Homo sapiens: one gene and its partner. The protein of the gene in region 1 interacts with the protein of each later gene in a pairwise test. Each region holds a gene or a part of one and is shown in the gene's direction. Other genes may lie near its edges.

What was found.
Region 2: the proteins of CORIN (region 1) and GPX8 interact in binary tests that used the Homo sapiens proteins (3 or more experiments, as listed by UniProt).

The regions. Positions count from the first base shown.
Region 1 is NC_000004.12:47,663,250-47,667,532, reverse strand, and holds part of CORIN (atrial natriuretic peptide-converting enzyme), read left to right. Parts: intron 1-2,269; coding exon 2,270-2,501; intron 2,502-4,283. UniProt on the Homo sapiens protein: Serine-type endopeptidase involved in atrial natriuretic peptide (NPPA) and brain natriuretic peptide (NPPB) processing.
Region 2 is NC_000005.10:55,165,484-55,167,797, forward strand, and holds the end of GPX8 (probable glutathione peroxidase 8), read left to right. Parts: 3' UTR 1-1,814; downstream 1,815-2,314.

The DNA.
Region 1 (4,283 bases):
CACTTCTTAGTCAAATAATTAAATTTAATTTGAATAATCACTCTCAATAAGGCATGGAGTCTTTGGTCTGCCTGGGCGAATTTTACCAGGACACTTGCTTGCCTGCCTCTCCACACAGGGAATGTGGCATATCTACTGCAAACAGAGAGAGGGAGCTGGGAGCCTCTCTGCTGTATTCCCCCAAAGCTGCCCAAACCACATTTATCATTGGAAGGAGTGTTAGTCTGTTTTCACGCTGCTGATAAAGACATACCTGAGACTGGGCAATTTACAAAAGAAAGAGGTTTAATGGACTTACAGTTCCACATGACTGGGGAGGCCTCACAATCATGGTGGAAGGTAAAAGGCACGTCTCACATGGTGGCAGACAAGAGAAGAATGAGAGCCAAGTGAAAGGTGAAACCCCTTATAAAATCATCAGATTTTGTGAGACTTATTCACTACCATGAGAACAGTATGGGGAAAACTGCCCCATTATCAGTGATCTCCCACTGGCTCCCTCCCACAACAAGTGGGGATTATGGGAGCTACAATTCAAGATGAGATTTGGGTGGGACACAGCCAGACCATATCAGAGGGCTTCCCAGTTCACTCTTGCACTACCTTTTCCCTTTGGACTCTAGCATTTTGTTCAATATGTCTGTCTTAGTATGTTCAAGCTGCTACAATAAAATGCCATGGATTGGGTGGCTTAAATGACAAACATTTATTTCTCACAGTTCTGAAGGCTGGAAGTGCAGGATCAGGATGCTGGCAGACTTGGTCTCTGGTAACAGGCTGCTTCCTGGTTTGCAGACAGTTGCCCTCTTGCGTTTCCTCACATGGCTGAGAGAGCGAGAGCTTTAGTCTCTTCTCCTTCTTATAAGGACTTTAATCCCATATAAATGCCACCCTCATCTAGACCTCATTGAAACCTCATCACCTCCCAAAGGCCCCACCTCCAAATACTATCACATTGCAGGTTAGAGTTTCAGCGTATGAATGGAGATACACAAATGTTCAGTTCATGCAAACTCTATCCTACCCTGTTCACATTCTACTACAGCTACCAGCGCGTGCATCCTTTTTCCTATCGAGATTGTGGAGTTCCTCAGTGGCAGAGACAATATTTCTCATTACTCTTACATTTACATTGCCTAGGATAGTCCCTGATACATTTTCCTCCCTTCATTCTGGCACTGTGCTAGGTGTAGACTTCAAGATCAAGAGATAAAGTCTCATTTCACAAAAATCTCAGGATTGTGTAGGGGAGGCAAGTAAGTAAATAAAGAATATGGCAGAATGCAATGAACATATGGTGGGTATGTGCCTAAGACGCTATTGCACTCACAAAAGACTCATTCTGGAAGTAGTAATGGGAAGAGTGGTTGGCCAGGAAGGTTTCCTGGAAGAGGTATTTGTGCTGAGTCTTCCAGACCACAGAGGAGTTAGCTTGTTGGGGAAGATGGGAAAGGGTTAATCCAGGCAGCAGGTGCCGTATGGCCCTGGCAGCTAGAACCATGACCACCTTTGGGGAGATAATTATGAGCATGTTATAAAAGAGGAGGTAAGAGAGGAGCAAACAGGGTGCATAAAGTCATACAATTCTTAAAATATCTGGTGTCATAAGGGAATAGAATTTATTACAGCAGAGATACTGTTGATTGGATAATCACAGGCAATGAAGCTGAAAAGTTAGCCTAGGGTTGAAGTATAAAATAGCCTCAGACTTCAAGCTAAGGGGTTTGGATTTTGTCTTATTAGTGAGAAGTATTCAACAGATCTGAGCCTCCTCTTGCCCTGAAATCTTGTAGCCTTATATTTAAACACATTAATCAACAATAAAACATATAGACAGAAGTTATCTACTTGCCTATTTGATCAAATTCATTAATTAGTTTAGTGACAGTGAAGATGATGGGGCTATCCTATTTTAGTAGTAATAAGTAAATCAGAAGAAGAAGATGAATTGGAGTCAATAAAAGGAATGATGAAAGAGAGTCATCTTTAGATAAGTTGAGCCAAGGGAAAAAATGAGGAAGGACTTTCTAAAGCAAGATGTTGTCACAGTGCTAGCAACTACATATACAGAAATGAATCTTAGTTGCCAGGGCACTTCACTAATCAACTTACTTATTTTCAATATCCATAAAAAATGTTATATACTACTGGCATTCTAGTCTTAGCTACTCTAAAGAAAGAATAAAATAGACTTCAAGTTTGTAAAACTTAAAGAAGTTGTTTTTATATGTGAAATTTAAAAATATTTGTGTGTATGTTTCTTTGTTAGGTCAATGTGAACCAATTACATTGGAACTCTGCATGAATTTGCCCTACAACAGTACAAGTTATCCAAATTATTTTGGCCACAGGACTCAAAAGGAAGCATCCATCAGCTGGGAGTCTTCTCTTTTCCCTGCACTTGTTCAAACCAACTGTTATAAATACCTCATGTTCTTTTCTTGCACCATTTTGGTACCAAAATGTGATGTGAATACAGGCGAGCATATCCCTCCTTGCAGGTAATATGATGGGATCTACCCCAGTCCCTTATTTTGCCTCAGAGAGAACCAAGGGGTGAAGACTTAGTTGAGTTTGGACAACGTAAATTTCCCTAAGGAGCTCTGCATTTATCAAATACTTTATATTTAACAAGTGAGACAAAGAAGTAGAAGTTGTAAAATGAATATTTGAGTCAGAATTCATTAACGAAGTACCAAACAAGGGAGCTGTGAACGTCCTTTGATGATAGTTTATGTGTTTTAATCAAATAAATTCACAGGTATTTCATTCTGTTGTATTAAAAAGCCATTTTTTTAAAAAAGTATGATAGTATAAAAGGGATATATCTGCCTCTTTTTCTGGCAACACTGATGTGTTTACAATGCTGCACTCTGACAGCACTTGTTAGAGATATGACATAAGAATACATAGTGCCAGACTCACAGATTGGACAGCGATGGACATTGCTGACATTTCTCTGCCTGTTTGAATGAAATAAGATGCGCTATTTCAAGAGCGTAGCTTGGACTTTGAATATGAGTGATATTCTAGTGTCAAGAGTATTGTTCCAGAGTCCATGTTTGGGTTAAAATCTTGACCCTTCTCTAGTTTCTAGGTAGCCCTTAGACAAAATCCTGAGTCTCTCTCAGCCTCGGTTCCTTTACATGTAGAATAAGGATAGTAATGGTTGTTGGGTTGTATTGTTTTGAGATCAAATGAATGTAAAGTGCTTCTGATTCATTGTAATGAACCCTGAATGGACAATAGCTATGATGATAGCACAGGAACACAATAGCTTCTTGGCAGTCTGTCCCTTTGCTGCGCCATGTGTTAGGCATTGTAGTCAGAGGGTTTGCATATACAGGATGACTCTCAGAAGTGAGTTGCTACTCTCTTCAGTGCTGTTTTCCCTCAAGGGGTAGGTATACAAATGTGCTGGCCTAAATGCGAGTAGCAACTGCAGAAACCATATGTTGGGATCAGAAGTCACGCAGAGTTTTTTTTAAAAAGCAGTACTATTACTATAGTGGACAGAAGAGAAAACAATAAATTATATGCTGAATACCAAATGGATAACAAAGTAAGGGCATCTATAGAGACAGGACAGGAAATAATAAAATTTCAAAATGACTTGGGGAACTGAACAAATTATACCAATAGAGAGAATAAAACTAAATGTTAGCTTGTGTAGAAAAATATCTGAAAATTTCTGCTAAGTACTTTTAAAAGTATCTCTAATAAAACATCTACCAATTTTATGTTAAAAAGCTGTTTTAAATCTTACTTCACTTTTGCAAAGCAAGGTCAGTGATAGTGAATAATTTCTTTTAATAGTACTTAACAATTTCTGGCATTTGACTTTCTTTTCATATGTAGATAAAAATTTCCCTGAAGCAGCATTTTCTGCTATAAATATAAATGTGAATTTATATCCAGATGTAATTTATAATTTCAGGGCTTAAGTTCCATATTAAAATGCATAAGACCAAGGATGATCCTGAAGTGTTGTTCAATCAAAATTTTGGTAAATTTCTTTTAGATAAATTTATTTCTTTTTTTCAGGTTTACCCATACATCTTTCATTTTCAGTGTCTATCACTACGAATTTTATATTTTGATATTTGTTTATAAGAAATTTTTGAATAATATGCTAATAAGTTCATAAAGCAATACATAGTTGCTTTTGCTAGGTGTGTTTATTAATTTTAACATTGAATTTTTTAGCTATGAGACTGAAAAATCTAACATCGAGTCCTTACAATGGGCTAAATACTTGAGGATTGTTATGCTGTAGCGTACTC
Region 2 (2,314 bases), on another chromosome or scaffold:
ACCTGATGGATGAAAGTGAAGATGTTTCGTATGGCAAATTCAGTAATGCTACCTCAGTATATAGTTCTGTATACGTATTTGGACCAAAGTTATTAGATAAACCAAAAATATTTCATGAAGCATCTTCTGCTTCAGAGTCCATATCCAGCCACCCAGCTATGAATGTATTTAGAAAGATATTTGGTGGAGGTGGAATTTCTACCAGAGGTCAAGAGGATTTGTAGGGATAGCCTCAAGAATGCCAGATGAGTGTGTCAGAAAGCCTGCTCCTACCTCTCGCCAGCTGCGTGACTTTAGGCAAGTCACTTAAGTACCTTATTTCAGTTTCCTCACCTGTAAATTGAACAGGGGTTGAATGGAATAAAAAGCCCTTTGCAACTCTAAAAGTCAATTAACACACTTACTAAGGTGTTTTAAGTGACCAGGAAGGAAATCAGAACTAACCTGGATTGTTAGCGAAGAAAACAGAAGCCACCAACAAGCCTATCTGTCCTTTGCAATTTTGCTCCAAGAGCCTATTAGCAATTTGAATTCTGAGCCTCTAAGAAAACTTATGCTCAGGTGGCCCCTCCAAGTGTTGGTGCCAGAGCACTCTTGCCTTGTATCCTCACCTACGCCTTCCATGAACTCATAGCAGTGCTGTGGCACTGCAGGGGTGTTTTATGCATTCACGTTAGGAGCATGAGCAGAACTGCATATGCCAGCACCACATGGGCAGCAGAGACTCCCCACTGCCAGATGGATGATAATGGAGCTGCACTGGGAACAACCAGGACTGTCCCAGTCAACATGATACAGATGAACATCCTGCCTTAAGTCACTAGCTCTCTCCAAAGCCAGATAAAGTGGGTTTCTTCACTTACATCTCTCTAATCTTGGCTGCCTTATTCAACCTACAGACTCTATGTCAGTGCTGGATTTTCTCCCCTTGCCCTTTAGGTAAGCAGAGTAGGCAGGAGGAGATTTGAAAGCGTGTCATACATATTGCCTTGAAAGAAAGGACATTCAGGTGTCCCTTCGGGGTTCTGTAACAATTAGGCTATGTGTGCTGAGAGAGGGAGCGGAGTCATTTGCTGATGTGCTGCTACCTGTAACTCAAATGCCTCATAGGAATACCAGCGGACAAACACATAGAGGAAAAGTTGAATCTTTCCTATATTGGACAATCTTCCTTCAGTCTTGTTTCTGCATCAAAAAGTCTGGGACACAGAGTGCTACAGGATGCCTGGGCTAAGGACTGTAACAGAAAAATATCAACATCAGAGCCTGGCACAGTGGCTCACACCGGTAATCCCAGCACTTTGGGAGGCCGAGGCGGGTGGATCACTTCAGGTCAGGAGTTCGAGACCATCCTGGCCAACATGGTGAAACCCCCATCTCTACTAAAAATACAAAAATTAGCCGGGCACGGTGGCACATGCCTGTAATCCCAGCTACCTGGGAGGCTGAGTCAGAAGAATCACTTGAAAACAGGAGGCTGAGGTTGCAATGAGCCAAGATTGCACCACTGCACTCCAACCTGGGCAACAGAGCGAGACCCCATCTTAAAGACCCTGTCTCAAAAAAGAGAGAAAAAGAAAAAGAAAAATATCAGGCATCACATGAAAGAGTATTCAGCTGTCGTTCTTGTGAAAAAGGAAAAGGACAAAATCAAATGCATTTTAACTGTGGTAACTAATTCACTGACTTGAAGTTTGCTTTGTTTGTTTTCTTTGGTGCGTAGAGAAGAATACTTCATACTAACTCCTGATCATCTTACAGCAGACATAACAACAGAGTGTTAGAGACTGGAATAAATATGAATTTGGCTGAAATGTGCCCTGAAAGTTGTATTTCATTTTTTTAAATGTTTAACAATTACACTGTATCAATAGTATATATACGTGTACATATATATAATTCTTAATAACTGCAGTGTATCTAGCATATATATAATGGTGGCTGGTACATGTTTAATAGCAGACTCTGGAGGAGGAATCCTGACATACAGCATTTGCCAGCTCAATGTAAATGCTCATGCTCCCTCATGGTCAATTTCAATCTACCACTGGTTTAGTAACTAGGATGCAAAATTTCTAAAAATGTGATAATTGGTGATGGGCATGATGGCTCAGGCCTGTAATATCAGCACTTTAAGCAGCTGAGGTGGGAGGATCACTTGAGCCCAGGAGTTAGAGACCAGCCTGGGGCAACATGGCAAAACCCTGTCTCCACAAAAAAAATCAAAAAATTAGCTGGGTGTAGTGGCACATGCCTCAGGTCCCAGCTACATAGGAGGCTGAGGTGGAAGGATTGCTTGAGCCCAAAGAGGTCA